2 separate regions of the Homo sapiens genome follow, and region 2 is linked to region 1. Evidence: fine-mapped expression QTL. Tissue or cell type: whole blood. Region 1 holds a variant in brackets; the other region holds the start of a gene. All regions are shown on one strand. Distances are from middle to middle.

What was found. PIP is the estimated chance that this variant, and not a neighbour inherited with it, causes the effect.
Region 2: SPON1 starts here. The variant in region 1 is fine-mapped to the expression of SPON1 in whole blood (INTERVAL, PIP above 0.99).

Annotation. Positions count from the first base shown.
Region 1 is chr11:13,909,492-13,919,709 of GRCh38, reverse strand. No RefSeq gene overlaps it. Among named protein-coding and RNA genes, the nearest start is that of LINC02683, 10 kb to the left of the region's middle. The variant A/GTA (reference allele first, on the strand shown) is at 5,158.
Region 2 is chr11:13,957,027-13,967,244 of GRCh38, reverse strand. SPON1 (spondin 1) reads right to left here and starts at 4,522. Exons shown (of 16, transcript NM_006108.4): 1 at 4,103-4,522. The coding sequence starts at 4,340. LOC124902637 (a long non-coding RNA gene) reads right to left here and starts at 4,088. Exons shown (of 2, transcript XR_007062602.1): 1 at 2,200-4,088; 2 at 1-204. RefSeq lists an enhancer at 719-1,237.

The DNA of each region.
Region 1 (10,218 bases):
TTCATTGTCTATTCTGCAGCTCATGTGAATATTCTAATAGCATAAAACTGATCTCGCCTCTGCGTTATTAGGTTTGGTGGTTTCTCATCATCTACAAGATCAAATCCTTACACTTTAGTTAGGCACATATTATGCTTCCCAAACAGCCTCAACCTACTTCATAGCCTCTTCCTCACCCCCTCCACCCTGTCTTTTCTCAATGATTTTGCTCTTCCATACCTCTATTTGTTCAGTTTGTATGTTTTTGAACATACATTTGTCTTTGTCTTAATTGCCCACTTTCCCGTCTTTCCTCCCCAATTTGCAAAAGTTTATTGATCATTCAAGATCAAGGTCAAATACCTCTTTCAAATTCAAAATCTAGGTCAAATGTCCATGACTTCTTGGGGCTGTTAATTGCCCCCTCCTAATACTCCAAACGTATCTCCATTATAGCACTTTATCACATTCTATTAATTCATCCTTCTATCTGGCTCTTTCTCATTGCACACAAGGATCTAGAGGGCAGACCTTGGGGCTTCTTCCTCCCTACATCTCCAAGGTCTCCCACAGTTCCTGGTCTAGGGTAGGCTTGTAATCAGTGCTTGTTGAATGAATGTGATCCCTGAAGCTTTCACACTCACGGTTGGTCTTAACTGGTATTTTGCAAGAATTATATTCCACCCCCTAGTTGAGGCATGCTCATGTTTAGACACAGAAGAAGAAAATATGGAATATTGTTGCTGTGGAAACTAACTTGGAAAATGACTTTCTTTTCTCCTTTATATAAATGTACAAGTCATATCTCATGGCTAAGTGGTCTATGAGTACTTACATAATGACACTGAAAGCCTCAAGCCTGCTCCCAAGGCGTTCTGTGGCAGTCAGCAATGCAGACCATGGAACACGTTCCCTGTGCCATTCTAGCATATAATCTTTCTCACTTTGATGCCCAGTTGCTGGGTTAAATATTGTTTTCAGTCTATCCTACAATAAAATTATTGCACTTCAGTGGATTTCTGTTTGGAGATTTTAAATATTTTAAAACCACACAATATAACAATTTTCAAAAGAAAAAACACTTATCTATTATTTTTAAAAGCTCCTTTCAAAAGCCTGTATTCTGTCCTAGTACTTGGGATCAGCCCACATGGAAAGCTTCTCTAAAGATTCTATAGGAATATTTTACATTTCTTCCTATGTATTCCTACAAGAAAGGTGCTAAAATAATAGCACAATACCTTGCATTTGTGATATTTTCTTCTGACCAATTATCTTACTAGAAGAAACCTGTGGGAATTTTATTACTTTTCTCACCTTTGTGGACCAAAGACTATTTTCATGTATGAAGACTTCCACGTCCTGTCTGATCTCTGGGGTCCTATAACTTGACTTTTACCATGTTGATAACTTTCTTGGCTTTCAATCTAAACTGCAGTGTCAGCCCAAATATCCTTACCCAAAGATTGCAAAAATGGGAGGGAGGGTTCTAATTTTAACCTGTGTAGGATACTTCATACTAGCATTTTTAAGGAGGCTTCATGACAGTATTCAAGATTTCTTCATGTGCTTTACACACAGCAGGGATGCCTCGTGTAATAAATGTATAACCCACATGTAAGCTGATTTGGCAAAGGGTCCCAGATGTTACACAAATAGGCCTCCTGAGGCCGGGAACTGGGAAATGCCTATGGTTGTTTCATCATTCAGCTGTGGAGAAAACAGTGTGAAAGGAAAATTAAAATCTCAGGACCCTCAAACTCACTATGCCAAAGGGAAAGGTCAAACTTGGGGACTGAGTCAATCCAAACTTCCCCCCATTTTGTTCTTAAATAGATAGTTACAAAGATAAAAGGCTACATACCTCCCTCACAATTTGCTCACAAGGCAATTCCTTGTGGGCCCCAAGATCTTTACCCTAAATCAGTTCTGTTGAATTTCACCTTGACAATGTAAATTAACAGCTTATCTTCACGGATATAGAACCAAGGACAGAACCAGAAGTCATCTCTCCATTCACCTGAGATGAATGCATGTTTGACTGCTTCCTCTACTCTATGTTTACTTCATCTTATGTAACAATGCAGATTCACAGAGCATGAGATGAATGCATAACTGACTCTTCCTCGATCCCCTCCTTTTACATGTAAAACATGGATTCAGTGAAGGCTGATCAAAGACTCAAAACAATGACACTGCTTCCCCCTTTTATCTAACCTTCTCCTTCTTTTTTCACTTCTCTTTCCCCTACTGCCCACTCTTTCCCCTTTAAAAGCTGAAGTTCCCAAACCCTCTTTGGAAAAAGCACAGATCACAGATGTTCCTGTGGTTTTGTGTTCCTTTTTCTTAGGTATGTCCTCAACCTTGGCAAAATAAACCTCTGAAATGATTGTGACTCACTTCAGTCATTCTCATTGATTTGCATCAGAAAAGATAAAATTTAACTCATGGGGTTGTTAAAAAGATGAATTAGACGTGCATATGGATAATGTAGGGTTCCTTGGGGTTTTGTCTTTTTGTCTTTGCATGCTCTACACTAGCCCTGGATGACCTCATCTGCACATGTTTGGGATATGCACACACAACACATACACACGCACACACACTCTTTGTTTTGTGTGGGTGTGTGTATTGTGTGTGTATCCCAAATATGCACAGTTCAGATTTTACCCAGGGGTTTAAGATGCACACACTCAACTGTATAGTTTGGATTTTCCAGTCACCTTGAGCACAATATATGCAAAACTAAACTCACCCTCGGCCTTACCAAATCAGCTTCTCTTCCTTCATCTCCATTTTGGTAAGTGGCACTGCCATCTAAGCCAGAAACCTGGAACCCTCAATTCCCTTCACACTCTTTGCCCACCCTTTATTTCCAATCACTCCCTAAGCCCTGCTGATTCTAAATCCAAATATAACTGGAACCCACTTGCTTATCTCCATCTTTTCCCACTGCCTTGGTAAAAGCCTCCAGTCTTTTTCACCTGAGCTACTGAAGCAGCTTCTGGTCAGGCCTCTTGCCTACAGCCTTGCTCTTCAATTTAGTCTTCATGACTGATTGAGTCCTCTCGCTAAAGCACACATCTTCTCTCCTTTAAACCCTTTTATGGCCTCCTATTCTCACCTGAACAAAGTCCAAGCTAATTATGATCCTCTTGATCCATTTTCCCCCCACATTCCACATTCACCCACACTGAGTATCTTTTAGTGTCTCAAACACGCCATTACTTTTCATCTTCAGGTCTTTGCCCTGGAGCTGATAGGGTCAAGACCAGGAGTTATTAAATTACAAATAGAGAAAACCCTAGGATTTCTCCTCTGTTTTTTATAGTGAGATGTTTTCATTCACCTCTCTCTTAAACTCCAGACACGTATTTTCAACTGTTATGCAGACATCTTCATTTGGATGTTTAATAGACATCTCAAAATTTACCACATCTCATACCTTAAGGTAATAAAAGCCATCTGTGACAAGCCAACCTTATACTGAAAGAGGAAAAGTTGAAAGCATTCCCCCTGAGAACTGGAACAAGACAAAAGGGCTACTGTTGGCTAATGATATGATCGTATACCTAGAAAACCCTAAAGACTCAACCTAAAACCTCCTAGAACTGGTAAATGAATTCAGCAAAGCTTTCAGGATACAAAATCAATGTACGCACATCAATAGCTCTGCTATACACCAACTGAGACCAAGCTGAGAATCAAATCACGAACTGAACCCCTTTCACAATACTTGCAAGAAAAATAAAATACTTAGGAATACACCTAACCAAAGATGTGAAAGACCTCTACAAGGAAAACTACAAAACACTGCTGAGAGAAATCATAGATGACACAAATGGAAACACATTCCTGCTCATGAATGGGTAGAATCAATATTGTGAAAATGACCACACTGCCAAAAACGATCTACAAATTCAATCCAATTCCCATCAAAATACCACCATCAGTTTTCACAGAACTAGAAAAAACAATCCTAAAATTCATATGGAACCAAAAAAGAGCCCACATAGCCAAAGCAAGACTAAGCAAAAAGAACAAATCTAGAGGCATCACATTGCCCAATTTCAAACTATACTATAAGGCCATAGTCACCAGAACAGTCTGATACTGGTATAAAAATAGGCTCATAGACCAATGGAACAGAATAGAGAACATAGAAATAAAGCCAGATACTTACAGCCAACTGATCTTTGACAAAGCAAATAAAAACATACAGTGTGGAAAGGACACCCTTTTCAACAAATGGTGCTGAGATAATTGGCAAGCCACATGTAGAAGAATGAAACTGGATCCTCATCTCTCACTTTATACAAAAATCAACTCTAGATGGATGAAAAACTTAAATCTAAGACCTGAAACCATTAATATTCTAAAAGATAACATCAGAAAAATCCTTCCAGACATTGACTTAGGCAAAGACTTCATGACCAAGAACCCAAAAGCAAATGCAACAAAAACAAAGATAAGTAGATGGGACTTAATTAAACTAAAGAGCTTCTGCACAGCAAAATAAATAATCAGCAGAGTTAACAGACAACCCACAGAGTGGGAGAAAATCTTCACAAGCTATACATCTGACAAAGGACTAATATTCAGAATCTACAAAGAACTCAAACAAATCAGCAAGAAAAAAAAAACAAACAATCCCATCAAAAAGTGGGCTAAGGACATGAACAGACAATTCTCCAAAGAAGATACACAAAAGGCCAACAAGCATATGGAAAAATGCTCAACATCACTGATTATCAGGGAAATGTAAATCAAAACCACGGTGCATACCACCTCACTCCTGCAAGAATGGCCATAATCAAACAATTAAAAAAAAATAGAAGTTGGCATGGATGCAGTGAAAAGGGAACACTTTTACACTGTTGGTGGGAATGTAAACTAGTACAACAACTACTTAAAACAGTAAGGAGATTCCTTAAAGAACTAAAAGTCGACCTACTGTTTGATCCAGCAATCCCACTACTAGGTATCCACCCAGAGGAAAAGAAGTCATTATATGAAAAAGACAATTGTACACACGTTTATAGCAGCACAATTTGCAATTGTAAAAATATGGAACCAGCCCAAATGCCCATCAACAAATGAGTAGTTAAAAAATGTGATATGTATATGTATATATATATATATATATACATGTGTGTATATATATATATGTGTGTGTGT[A/GTA]TATATATATATATACACACACACATATACACTCCATGGAATACTACTCAGTCATAAAAAGGAATGAAATAATGGCATTCACGGCAACCTGGAAGAAATTGGAGACTAATATGCTAAGTGAAGTAATTCAGGAATGGAAAATCAAGATTGTATGTTCTCACTCATATGTGGGAGCTCAGCTATGAGGATTCAAAGGCATAAGAATGATACATTTGACTTTAGGGACTTGGGGAAAAGGGTTGGGGGTGGTAAGAGATAAAAGACTACACATTGGGTACGGTGTACACCGCTCAGGTGATGGGTGCACCAAAATCTCAGAAATCACCACCAAAGAACTTATTCATGTAACCAAACACCATCTGTTCCCCAAAAACCTATTGAAATAAAAAAAATTTTTAAAAATTACCACATCTCAAACTGCTCTCCTCTGTCAATAAATCTTACCATTCTCCTTAACACATCACAGCTCACACACAAGGTGTTTTACTTTTTATTTTGTTTACTATCAGTCTTCTCCACTGTTTTTCTGTTTTGTTCAATAATGAATTCCCAGAGCCTAGTACAGTTCCTGACACACACGGGACATTCAATAAATGTTTGGTAAATGAATGTATGACCCTACAGCAACAGAATGAAGAGGGATTGAAACCTATCTGGAATTCCCCAGGTCTGGATAGCCACAGTGCAGTAGAAAGATCATAAGTTTCGTCAGGCACACTTGCCTAGTTGTATGACCTAGGATACCTCACTTAACCTCTTTGAGACATTTTTCTCATTTTGTGAGCTAGCTTACAAGACTGCTATGAGTGAATGGATATAATTGGCTTTAACCATACCATGGTTGGTGCTTAACACATATTCTTATATTCCTAACTCCAGGTTTGACAAAGACTCCTGGAAGCCTCAAAAACTTGTCAAGTTTAGCAAGCCTTATCCAGAGCAGACCTTAGATGAGGCAACTCAAGACTTAATCAAACCGTGTTCTATAAGGAGCTCATTTCATTTAAAGTGCTGTAGCTCTTACTGGGGGGACCAGGGTTTAGTGTGAGTGTCAAGTGAAAATCACATTCTTATAAACAGCTGCTCAAGGCCTGGTCTCCTTGAGAGAAATTGGGGGCATGATCTCTCCTTGCTACCTATTTCTCCTAACTCATTGGGAAGTGTTTATTGGCGACATTGTTTACTGATCTTGGAGTACTGTGACTTGCCCTCTCACATAATGCCTAATATCTGTGCACTTATTTATAAAGTTCCCTCTGGTGCAGTGTGGCCAACAGTCATTCAAGGGGGCTAAATTAGGAAGGGAGATACCAGATGCCCAAAGTTTCTGGTGAAATGAGATGGAAATCCAGATTTGCCTAATGCTTATGATTGTCAGGGCAAAAGAAAATCCAGTCCTTTTCTGATGTGAACTTGTTAAGGCATATTTGTGTGATGATATTTGCAGATACCCTGCAAAGGCACAGATGGTTGTTGACGTTTCAAAGGAACCAGTCAAGAAAAAATGTTGGACATGAAGAAAATGGGCATACCGAATAAGAATCATAGACTAATAAAGCTAAGTGAAGCCTTAGGAATCCTCGATTTTGAAGATGAGAAAAATGAAGCACAAAGACATGAAATGATCCACCTAGGGTCACATGTTAATAAAAAGGAGACAGACAACTCAAATCCTGTTGTTTGGAGTCTCAGGCTATATTAGTCCATTCTCACACTGCTATAAAGAAATGCCTGAGACTGGGTAATTTGTAAAGAAAAGAGGTTTAATGGGATCATGGTTTTGCAGTCTGTATAGGAACCATAGTGGCTTCTGCTTCTGGAGAGGCCTTAGGAAACTTACAATTATGGCAGAAGGTGAAGGGGAAGCAGGCATGTCTTACATGGCCAGAGCAGGAGAAAGGGAAGAGTGAGGAGGTGCTATACACTTAACCAGATCTCAGGATAACTCACTCACTCACTATCATGAGAACAGCACCGAGGGATGGTACTAACCCATTCATGAAGGGCCACCCCCATGATCAAATCACCTCCCACCAGGCCCCAACTCCAACACTGGGGATTACAATTCAACATGAGATTTGGTGGGGACATAGAGCCAAATCATATCACAGGCCTAAGTGATATGTGCTTTTTACCACAATATTCTTAAAGCAAGGAAAGAGAGGTCTAAAGAGGCAAGATGACCCTAGTGCTCAATGACATTTTTAAGATTTTCTCCATGGTCAGATTAAAAGGACCTAAAACAGGTCAGCATTTAACATATGAGAAAATGTATATGAAAGTGCACTGTAAATTATAAAATGTTGCCTAAATATTGGGTCATTTACTGATTAAATAAATGAGGTTAAAAAATAAAATGGTCTGAGCAGATGGATGTAATTGTACAGTATTACACATTACATTTTAATGGCTACCAAACATATCAAAGTGATTTCACCTGCTTTGTCAGCTGTTTCATTGATTCTTTGTTGCTGACTCTAGCAGAGGTAACACATCGACCACAAATTTGCACAAAGAAAATGTGCAGGAAAATTAACTTGCACACAGTGTTTCTTTATTAAGATTTTTTCAATTATAAAAAAGAATATATAAGTATATTATTGTATAGTATTTGGAAAATATAAAAGAAAATAATGAAAGTTACCTGAAAAACTGCCCTTGATAACAAATACTATTAAAATTTTGGTGTTTTTTTATCTAAAAAATTTAAACCTGTAAGTACATACTGTATATACAGTTTAAAATACCATATCTTCAAATGACATTACTTAGTGACTATTTTTTCATTAGTCTTTAAGAATAGTATAATTGGTTATATATTATTTCATTATACAGAACCATGATAATTTATTAACTATTGTTGGACAGTTACCTTGTTACCAAACTTTCACTATACTAAGATTTCTGAAATGAAAGGGATACCTGTTTGGCCACACTTTTGGTTTTCATCCTTCTTGGAGTAAATTCATAGAAGTTGAATTATTAGATCGAAGACTTTGATGATTTTTAATGTTCCTCATAAGGACTGATCATTTGCTTTTCAGAGAATGTGACTTATTTATATGACCCCCTAGCACTGTGTGTAAATATACATCTCACCACACCCTTGCTAGCATTGTCATTTAAAATAGTTGACAGTGGGTGAAAGTTTGATGAGAAACAGGATATTTCCATGGTGTCAAAATAAATTCCCACAAGACATTTAATAACCACAGGGAGAAAAATAATTTTATGCTAGAAAAATCTGGCAGACACCACGTTAACCAAGAGATCAAAGTTGCTAGAATTGATAATGACACTAATTAACATCATGTTCCTCATAATACAATGAACTGAGAAGGATACAACATGACTTCTGAGATATCCTTGCCAAAAATAGAAAACTTGAATCTAGTAATAGGGAAACATCAGACAAACCCAAACTGAGAGACACACAACAAAATAAATAATCTGTGTTCTTCAAAAATGTCTACATCACTGGCATTTAATATTTTCTGATATCTCTTGTGATTGAATTCCCTTCCCCATTATGTTATCTGAATGGTATTACTGCCATTGAGGAAAGCTACTGAATTTTGTACTTTTTTTTGGTGTGCCATCATTTTACTTATTATGAACTAATATTAAGAGCTTTCAGCTGGTTATCTTGCAGTTTTTAAAAGATATATAATCATATTGTCTGAAAATAACAATAATGTGTCTCTTCCTTTCTGATAATCTTACCTCTTATTTCTGCCTCATGTCTTATTGCATCAGATAGAATTTCCAGAACAGTGTTACGTGACAATGGAGACATCTAGCATCTCTGCCACTTCCTGGATTTAATGGGAATGATTCTGGTTTTTTAACATTAAAGATAATGCAGGCTGTCAATATGAAATATTATATATTAAAGGAAGTATCTTCCTATTCCTAGTTTTCTATGAGGATTTTTTTTCCAAATCAGGCATGAATGTTAAATTTTTCTGAATACCTTTTTGTCATCTATTGAGATTATCATACAATTTTTTATATTGGAGTTGTTGAACTAACGCCATTATATTAACAGATTTTTCTAACATAAAACTACCCTTGCTTCTCTGGAATAAACCATATTTAGCTGCAGTAGGTTATTCTCTTAATATTTTATTTTGTTATTATTATATTTTGTCATTATTATATTTTGTCCTTTTCCAACTCTGTGGTGGATTTGTATTGCATCAACTTAATTTAGCTGGAACTACATCTCCAGAATTCTCTACATAGTTCTGGGTTAGCTGGGCCACAACCAACAATTGTGTGAGATTAGGAAGGTGAACGTGAAGTAGGAGCCGTATTCACTTTACACTCACAAGGTTGGTGCAGCACACAAGGCATTGGTGCTTGGTACCTGCTGTTACTGTTCTGCTGGCTTGCCTGGTTAGGATGAGACAGCAGCTGGGTCTGTAGCTCCTCCAGATTCTGCTGGGCCAATGTCTTCTGCTTCACTGATTCCTGGGCTAGACACACTTCAGCTACATGAGGAAAAGTACCTATTTCTCCCACCAATGCCACTCTATGGAGGCTTGGGGACAGTGAGAAACTGGTGTAGGTTTTAACCTGTCTTTGCAGGTTCCAGTTTTGCTGCCCCCAGTTCATGTCCATCTTTCTTTCCTCATTGCCTGCCTTTCTGATTTCAGATTCCAGCCTGAAACACAGAAACAATAGCTGTACATAAACATTTAACCAGCTCCCACAATTGTATAAGGTCCAATCTGTATAATATATCCTCATTTTATATAAACCCTAATGTTTCTTCTGCTCTTATCAAATCTTTATCAAAACACCATTCATAAGATTGTTTTAAATATGTTCTGATTATTTTTTGTTGGCTCCATGAGATTCATTCTCTGAGCATCAGGAATGTGGTAGTAGCTTAGCTGGGTGATTCTGGCTCAGGGTATCTCATGCAATTGTAGTCAAGATGTCAGCTGGGACTGTGGTCATCTGAAGGCTTGACTGGGGCTGGAGGATGTGTTCCAAATGCACTCACATGACCACTGGCAGGAAGCCTCAAGGTCTTACCCTGTGGGCCTTTCCATA
Region 2 (10,218 bases), 48 kb before region 1:
TGAATTTCATTCTATTCCCAACTAATTTCATTGAGTCAGCACATAAGACTGGTTAAGAGCACAGATTTAGGAGTCAGACAGACCTGAGACTGTATCCTGATTCTGCTGATTATTAGCTGTGTGACCATGGATAAGGAATAAACTTCTCTGAGGTTTAGTCTTCTCATCCATAAAACAGTAACGATCAGAAACTTCCTCAAAGTACTGTAAGGAATAAGTGAGATGAGTCGGAAGAACTTAACACAATATCTTATCCAGGGCTTTGCTGCTAAGTATTTTTCTATTTCCAAAATAATCATCTCATAACATATTTTTTTAGCAACCACTGTGTGACAATTTCTTTTGACATGAATTATTTCTAATTCTCACAGGAATGCTGGGAAAAAATCAAAACACCCTCATTTTACAGATGGAGAAATTGGCTCAGAGAGGTGAAGTGGCTTCCTGAGATCACACAGTGAATATGTGACCAAGGAGGACCTGAAACCAACCCACCCAACATCAAAGCCTGTGCGCTTTCCACCAGGCTGAGGTGTCCACCCCTGTGGTCAGTGTGTGTCTCAGTGTGGGACAAAGGAAAAACCATGCAGCTTTGGAGGTCTCCAAACCTCCCAGTTTAGGATAAACCCCTCAATTATGCTTGAAGTTGGACCAGCTTTTGAAACCTCTACTGGACATTCTTTTCCCATCAAGTTCCTTGAAATGTCTCTTTAAAATACATCTAGGAAAAGCCACTCTCATTAGCCAGAGTCTGACTTTATTTTCCTAATAAACAGACCTCCAGTAAGACAAAAGAGCCTCTTTTATTTTCAATCAATTCTTGAATATTTCAGTGGATTTTCTTCTGTTTGGCTTGAAATTGTGATCTGGGAAAGGCTGGTCCTGCGAATTGTCCTCCTGTATAAGGGAAGCCCCTTGAGGATCCTCAACTTGTTATTTTTAATCACTGTAATCTCCTTTTCAAAGGAGGCCCTGGCCAGAAACAGAGCAGGCCTTTCAGAGCTTTCTAAAGCACAATTATTGCCGTTGGAGGGAGGGGGGACTGTGGGAAGAGGGAGGGAGAGTAGAGAGAAGTGGTGGGAAAGAAAAGGAAATCAATATAATACTAACAACTTGGAAAAGACAAAATAATGATCTCAACTGGATTCAGGTTTTGGGGAAGAAACTCCATGTTTCAGTCTTTTTTAATAGTGACCATTTTATTCCGGTCTAGAGTACCTAAAGACTGTACTTAGACAGCAGGCACAAAGAACAGAAGCTGCTTGGGGATGAACTGGAATACTGTGGACAAAGATTTGAGGCAGGAAAACAAGTCATTGATTCCAAGGATTGTGAGGAATCCTAATTCATGAAAAAATTAAAAAGCAAATAGAACACCAGGGGAATGCCAGCTTCACAGCCTTAAGTCAGGACAATGAGCAGAATGTGTTTGAGTTACTTTTAACATAATTATTCTAAGAAAGAAGGAGCCAACAGAAAATGTCACAAACTAGGCCAGTACCTTTTCTTTCGGACTTTGAGTGGCAGAATCAGGTTTGCTAATTGCAGGATATTTACTTGGAAAACCTCAGCATGGTTCCTGCAAGATCTCTTCCAAGGTCTTTTAGCCATAAGAAGGGAGAAAAGATGATTGCCCAATCTATAGCCTGAGTTGGGGTGTCAAAGTCCAGATGGCTGTTTAGGCAGGAGTAGCCTGTAGGGTGAAAGTCCAGGACACTCCCTATCCAGTCCCAGTTCCCCACCTGCTGGCCCTGGACGTTTAGGTAGTTCTGAAACCTCTTTGGCCCCGTGAATACCAGCTGTATCTCCTTCCCAGTGCTAGGGCCACCAGCTGCCAATGCTCAACTAAAACACGGAGGATTAGTGTGAAAAGAGACGCTGGGTACACTTGGCCTGAACCTCAGACTAGTCTAAGTCACTGAAAAAATCTTCCTGGGCTTGCATTAGCAACAGTCTTAGGCAAGGCTCCTGATATGAAAAAATACCTCATTCATTCATTCAATTAATTCATGAGGACCCAAATAACCACTGGTAGATGAATGGGACTGGAGGAGAGCTGAGGAAACCTGCTTTCAAACGCACAACACTCTTCAAAAACAAAAATCTGATCAAGAACCTACCTCCATTAGTAAACCAATAAAGGCCTCACATTCAACTGTTAGGCTTATTAGGAATCTCTTTTAGCTCAGGCACACTCACCTTTGTAAACTCATTTACTCCCTACCACCAAGAGAGGGTGGATAAACAGCTTTTTTTTTTTTCCAGCTAGGAAATAGGTGCAGAGAAATTAAATGACTTGCACAAGGTCACACAGCGAGTAAACCCAAGTCTGTTGGACTCCAGAGCCACTTCTTTCTCTGCTACGTGGAGCGGGGACAGTTTCCCCTGTGAACTCAGGTCCTCAGTTTTGGGGAGGGCCGAATAGGCCACTGAAGTCATACCCGCTTCCCTGCGGTCCACAGGGAGGATCGGCCGCCTCCCGGCTGCACCGAGTGGCAGTCGCCGCCCGTCGGCGCGGCTCGCTCTAGCCGCGGTGCCAAGCCGCGCGCTCCCTCCCGGGCTGGGCGGGGTGTTCTCCGCCCAGAATCTTTCTTCGTGGAGTACCCAGGATCCCGCGGAGCTGCGCGCCGGGGTCAGACTGTTCCTCGCAAAGTGCTCAGCACGCCAAGGTGCCAAGGGCACCAAGGAGCCGGCTTTGGGTAGCTCCGGGTGGAGAAAGTCGGGGACACAAACCCGGGAAAGGGGGAAAAGCGCTCCAAGAAGGGTGGCCCCTGGCTTTGGTCTCCGGCGTGACCCTGGCGCCCGCTGACGCTGCCCCAGACTTTCTCCTGTGTTGCTCCCACCGCTTCCGTCCAAGGCTCTCTGGGGAACTGGGAAGGCGAGGAGGAAAGTACAGCAGCTGGGAGCCCATTTGCCCCACCAGGTGCCCCAGTGACCCGCTCATCCCTGCTTAGCACCAGAGCTGACTTATGAAGGGGCGAGGGTGAGAGGACACGCTCCCTGGCGGGAGCTAAGGTGAGGCCAGACAGGCTCGCTTCCCTTCCTGGTTACCTGTCCCCCACCCGGAGAGCGGCTGCTGCTGCACGGGGAAACGATGTCTGGGGAGATGACCCTGCTGAGGAGCGAGGTGGCGGGCGTGGGGACAGAGTCAGGCGTCTTCAGATCGGTGCTGGTCGAACTGCCTGTCCCGCCTAGGAGGCTCTCACCTGCTTGGACACCTCCTCCCTGAGCTCCCGAAACCCCACTCTCAGCCGAGCGGCGTAGGCGCGACATCCCTGGGACGTGGAGACTCCGAGCTGCCGGAGCCAAGGTTCCCCGGCCTCCAGGGAGCAGGCCTCGGGCATCGGGGCTTCTCTTTCCATCTTCATCCAATTCCCCTTGCAGCTCGGAGCTTACCCCAAGCTCTTTGAGGACCCTGTCCCCACTGGGAACCTGTTCTGGAAACCCAAGATACTCTATCTCGTCTGGGACCACGAGAGAATAATTTGGGGTTCTTTCCAAGGACCCTTTCGAGGAGCTTTAGGCTGTCCCTGCCCCTCCTTCCCGCACCCCGGGACCGGTTAGGGAGAAGCCAAAGTCCCTTCTCCTGAAGGGACCTATCCAGGGAAGCCGGAGTGGCTGTCCCGCCCAGGGCCAGTCTTTGAGAATCGGGTACCCTCTCCTTCAGGGACTGAGCGGGGAAAGCTGGAGTGGCTGCCTTGCCCGGGACCCGACCAAGAGAAGCCTGGGTCCCCTCCAGACCGATTTGGAGAAAGGCAGTTTTACTTCCCTCCTGCAGACGGCCGGGGGAGAAGCGAGCCTCCCTTGCAGTCAGGCCGGCGTGACGTGTGGCTCAGTTACATCCTCCGCCTGGGAACCGCGCGTCGGAAACGCGGGGTGCCTCTCCTGGCTGCGGCCCCCGCGACGGCCCGGGACGCTGGATTATGATCCGCGCCGAGCTCGCGACTGCAAGGGCCGAGGGCAGCCAGGACAGAAGGGCCCTTGCCGGGCTGCACCCGCGCCACGCGCCCGGAGACCGCGCGCCCTCCTCCGGCACCGCGAGGTCGGCGCCCTCCGGGGACCGGGTCCCGCTCTCCTAATGCCACGCCGGGCGGCCACTTACCGCGGTAGCTGGTTCCCGGCTTGTAGAAGTCGGGGTCGCCCTCCACGCGGAGGCTGAACTCGGTGTAGCCCTCGCGCCGCGTGCCCTGGGCGCGCAGGATACGGCTGCAGTAGCCCTCTGACTTGGGCACTTTGTCCAGGGTCTCGTCGGAGAAGGCCAGCGCCGCGGCCAGGGGCAGCGCCAGGGCCAGCAGTGCCGGAGTCCGGCTCAGCTTCAGGGGCGCCGGGGACAGCCTCATCTTCGCGGCCCCCAACTTTGTGCCGCGGCCGCAGGCCTTCGCCACGCGACTCCTGCCCGAAGTGGTCCCGACGAAGGCGCGACCTGGCGGAGGCGCGGCGGAGAGAGGGAGCTCGGAGCTGGCGTCCGCGACTCGGAGACCGTGCCCGCCTCGGCTTGGCGGCCGCGGAGCTGCGCTGAGCTGAGCTGAGCTGAGCCAAGCGAACGAGAGCAGCGCGAGGAGGGGAGGGCCGCGGCGAAGGAGCGGGAGGAGGGAGGGCTGATTTTGCCCAGATCCCCCAGCGCAGCGCTGTTTTGTTTCCTCCGAACTGGCGATTAGCGGCGCGGCCGTGTTTATTTTGCGACGTTGGATTCCCAGGGTCTGACGAAGAAACCGTGGCATACCGGACCCTGTGGGCTCTGTCCCATCGCCTAGGAGGCTGCTGCTCCAACCCCCAGCTACACTCCGGACCCTCTGGAGGACGGCGCTCAGAGGAGGGAAAGCCTGAGAAATAACTTTTGTTGCACACCTGCTCTGTGCCTAGCAATATGCTTGGCGGCTTACTTACTGTATCGACTCGCCTTCATGTTCCCTACTCCCAATAAAGATTACATTACTTTCGCTCACTTTATAGATGAGCAAACTGTGACTTGCGACCAGTTACAGCAGGGTTAGATGCGGCGACTCCGGGCCCATTGCTCTTCCCAAGGCCATAGTGGAACATGTCAGACTGGAGGCTGAGAAAGGAGAAACGACTTAGCTACAGCGCTTAGGGCCCACGATACTTTTGGAGATCTATGAAAATGTTTTCTGTAAAAATCAGAAGAAAAAATTTATGTCAAACAAAATGTTTTACTATATAATGTTAATATATTTGTATTTATACCTCCACAGTCATAAAATATGCTTGACTTGGAGGAAAGAGCCAGCAAAGGCAAAAGTGCCTAAGGCTCAGGAAGGTCCTCCTACAGCCCAGGAAAGGAGTTTCCAAAGATTCAATGAAGAGCCTGTGTTTTCTTGGCTTACATTTTAGTTCAGATTCTCACTCCCCAGGGACAGATGTTCAGAGAGGTGCTGAGCCTGAGGGCCTGAAGGGAAAAGACCTGGGGCAAGAATCTCTCCCAGTGTCTCTCTGGGAAGAGACCCGAATCAAACCTCAGTCCTGCCACTCACCCATTGTGAAGCTTGGGCTAGTTATCGCACTCTCCAAGCTTGTTTCCTGCTCTGGAGAACAAGGAAGTGGGGGTGGGTGCCAGTACATCCTTCTTAGAGGTAGTGGGGTGATATGCTAGAAGTAAATGATATGACCCATATAAAACACTCTAGTTGGTCTCTAGTGGCGCCTGCTCCCTCACCCGCTTGGGGATACCATAAGCCCCCTGCCTCTCAGTGCACACAAACATCCCTCCCCAGGTGCCCTCAGAAGCTTTGGTTTCCTCGTCTTCTCTTTGCCCAGGGCCTTCGACACACCTCAAGTGCCTACAATTAGCAAGCAATCTCCTTTGCTTTCCAGGTCAGGGTTTTCTCTTTCATAATGCTACAAACAGGCCCAGGGCGCTAGGTGCATGGGAGATCTCCATTCCTCCCTGCCTGCCCACTTACTCCTTAGTGCTTGTGCTGGAATTCCCACTGCCACTATTAACTGGACGCCTTCTCTCAGAGGTCACCTGAAAGTAACCCCTTGCTGAAGCCAATTATGCTCTTCTCTCATCCCTAGCCCTTCTTGACCCTAGCAGCACCTGATCCAGCTGATCGGCCCTCCTTTTTGAGGTGAGGCTCAGATCCATGTCTGAGTGCTGAGGGAATTGTCTGCATCTTCACTCGACTGGCTCAGAGCTCATGCTGCACTCCAAGTTGCACGGTCCCATTCATCCAGCAAACTTTCATTAAGTGTAGATTTGGAGCTAGACTCTGTGCTGACCGGTAGGTAGAAGACGGAACAAAAATTCATCCATCCATCCATCCATGCATCCTTCTATCCATCCATTCATTCATGACAAAGACCCTCCACGTGCTCAGTGCTTGGATACAAAACACAGATATGTTACTTGCCTTTGAGGATTTTACAGGCCTGTGGCAAAGGCAAATATTAAATACATAATTATATGAATCTTTTAAAATTATAATTGTGATGTATGCTACAAACTAAAATAAGTGGTTCTTGAAAGTGTACCTGATCTTATCTCAGAGGGCAGGAAACTACAGAAATGAATAAATTGTGACCCCTGTCTTCACAAAGCTTATTTTATGTCTGAAAGCTCAAATCTGTGCTCTTGAACCTCTATTCATCTACAAAAGGTTCAAATCTAAGTTGGAGATGGGTGGGCATGAAGTAGGCAGGAATGCAATATTTAACTTTTTATTGGATATTGACAGGAAAACTATGGGAAGTAGGCAGTCCCAATTCACCTCCGCACTCCCATTGTTCAGATTAGGAGCCTATGAAATTACCTGCTGAGGTAATGTTCCATGGCTATTAAGGGAAAGAGCCAGGATTTAAAACAGGCATCCCCAACACCAAATGAGGTACTTTCCAGTACACAGTGTTCGCCCTATCATCTGGGCTATGACGGCAGGCTCTAACCAGCTCACCAAGCTCCAATCCCACTACATGAGCTAGGTTTTCCTAAACCAGCTTGGCTGTCACTCAGACCTCTGCTGTCTTCTCCACTCATCCGATCCATCACCACATCAAGTTTCACGCTCTTCTCCACCACTACCCCTGTCTGTGTTGACATCCTCTCTCATCTTCCTAACTGGGTTGCCCTTGTCTACTTGTGCTCTCCTTCCATCTGTCTTCTGCACTGAAGCCCAAGTGATCTTTTTAAAAATGCAGATTTGAATGTCAATCCTGAGGTTAACATTTTTTCTTGGTGGTTTTTCAGGGCTCTCAGAATAAAGACAGAATCTTCAGCCAGGCCTCCAAGGCTCTGCTTGATCTGCTTCTCCAGCCATGCAGCTCTTCTCTCATGGGCTTTGCCTGTGCTGTTCTCTCTGCCTGGAATCCTATCATGCTCTTTGGTCTCTCCTAGCCACCACTCTCCATTGGCCAACTCCTATGTACTCTTCAGATCTCAGTGCAAAACTGCCTCCCCAAAGAAGGCCTTTCTGATTTCCTAGAATAGATCCAGCCCCCAAAACTCTGCTGAAGCTCATGAGTACCTTTTCTTTTAATCTCCTCCTCCTCCTCCTCCTTCTTCTTCCTTCTTCCTCCTCCCTCTCCTCCTCCTCCTTCTTCTTTCTCCTTTCTCCTTTCCTCTTTCTTCTTTCTTCTTGAGGCAGGGTCTTCCTATGTTGCTCAGGTTGGTCTCAAACTCTTGGGCTCAAGCAATCTTCCTGCCTCAGCCTCCCAAAGTGTTGGGACTACAGGCATGAGCCACCACACCTGGCTTCTTTTAATATTAAGATTTATAATGACCCATTGATTTATAAGTTTGATGTTTAAAATTTTACATTTGTTCAGTATTTGTCTCCATTCTAAATTCTAAGCTCCAGAAGGGTAGGGGATGTCTATGGGGCTTACCACTGTATTTTCCGTGCACATCGTAGTGCCCGGCCCCTGGTAGGGGTTCCATAAATATTTTTTCTCTGAATAAAAACTTTTTAACAAGCCTACCCTCAGTGCCTTCTGACTCTGCCCAAATTTTAAGACTTGGCCTCTAAGGCCATCCACAATCTGGTCTCACTGTGTCCATCTGGTCATGCCTGGTCATAGATCCCAATCTGAGCTCCCAGCACCACCCAGCTGGGCTCCCCGTGTCCTCCACTTCAGTATTGCCTCAGCACCTTTGCTTACAGCTTTCTCATGGCCTGGAATGCCCTCCCTCCTCCTGCCTGATTAAATTTTCCTCCATAGAATGAGATCCTGCAGTCTCCCCTCCTGTGGACTTCAGTAGAACTGAGGAGGAGAAAAAGTTTCCCATTTTGACTACTGTGGTCCAGTGGATTGTCATGAACTATTTCATGTGTCTATTTCTCATCTCCTAGCAATGAATCCAGTTTACTTTCCCCTTAATTTCCTGTTCAGATGTTTTGTTCTTTTGTAAAATATACTGGACTTCAAGAAATCTCCTTCCAGTTTTTGTAGCCTAAGGCAGAGCTGATGTCAGTTGCTAGGGTGTTGCTAAGGAAAGTCATTTAGCCAGGGCAGATAATTAACTTTATCAGTGTGTGTGGGTAGGTCGCAGAAGAGAAGAGCTGGGGGCTCCAGTTCTCCAAGGCGAGAAAAGTCCTTTGATTCATAGGAGGTAAGATCTCCCTCTTTTTTCTCCCCGCTTTAAGAGAGAAGGGGGAAAAGGATTTTCTAGATTAGTGTTTTTCTGAGTATGGTCATTGAAACATGAGCATCAGATGTTTGCTTCAAAGGCAGATTCCGAAACCTCATCCCAGACCTACTAAATCTGTACTTTGAAGAAAAACTCATACTGAAGTTTAAGGAACCGTCGTCCTAGACCGTAATTCAGACTTGAAGTACATGGGTTCCAGGCTGGCTCTTCTGTTTTCACCATGTGAAGCTGTGCAGTCTTGGAAAGTCACAGGACCTATCTACACGGATTATGTGCAAAATTGGACATAGTAATACCCATCTTGCCTACCTTGTGGGATTTTGAGAAACAAATGGGTAACTGAGATAATTTGTAAACTGCAATGAGGTCACAATAACCCCACCCAGTTATTATTGTTACTTTTATTAATTCAGAAAAAGAGTCTAGAAACTTTATGTTTTTGTTTCTCTTATATATAGAGTTAAATTGGACATTTTATAGAAAGGGATTTCTAGAGAAAGAAAACAGATAGGCAATGAAGGAGTTGAATTGCACTGAATAATCTATTGTAATCTGTGGTGAGGAGGCCTGGAAGCTGTCTACAGGTGAGCCAGCAAGTTTAAAGACTAAGTTATGGAAACTGAATACATACGTACATACGGTAAAAAAAAAAAAAAAATCCTAAAAGCAAAAGACATTCATTAATTACAAAGATATTTCTTCAGAACCTGCTGTGTTCTAGGCATCAGCCAATTATATATAATTACATTACCTTTGGAATCCTGAATCTGATTGGGCCCATCCCACAATTCCATGTAAGGTATGAGCTCCTCCGATCACCCGTCTCTCCAGTCTTTTGGTCTCCATTCAGTTTTGCCCTTCCTTCTGCTCTCTGGAGCATTCCTCTATCGATTGCCCATTGCCGTATCCAGATCAACATTCTAGTAAGTAAGAGATAATAAGAGTCCCTCCTACATTAAAACTCCCAGCATCCAATTTATACTCCTTCATCCTATCTCCATCATCTGTAGCCTCCAGGTCACTTTCCTGCAGCCACTGTGGACTCTGCAACTGGCTCTCTAGCTTCCTGCCTATTGTCTCATGCTATGGGCCTGGGAGATTAGCCTGATGAAGTCTGAGCTGACAATTTAGTCTCTGCTCTAACCTCCTCTACTCCAATGAGCTTGGCCTCCCTCCATATCAGCAGCCCTCTCCCACAGAAACACCCTCTTCTTTGGGAATCTTGAGCTCCCAATAGCACTTTCTCATTTTACTTCCAGCTTTCCCATTTCTCACCTCCTCTATGTCATTGAGGTCTACAGCTGCTTAGTCACTTCTGATTTTTTCCAGCCCATCTTGTTAATTCCTTCCCCACCCAGCCTGGACACCATGTTCAATCATTTTAACTATATCCTAACCACCATTCTTCATTAGCTCTCCTCTTTTATTTCTGTTCCTCCTCTTTAACCCCCAACCTACAGCAAATCAACCAAGCAAAACAATGGAACCCTCCCCGACTTCTGAGTTCTGCTGCACAAAACCTGGTAACCCTGCCAATTACTTTACTACAAATGCATGAATTCTACCTTTAAGTATAGTTCTTAAATTTATTCCTAATCAGTTTCTTTTCCTAT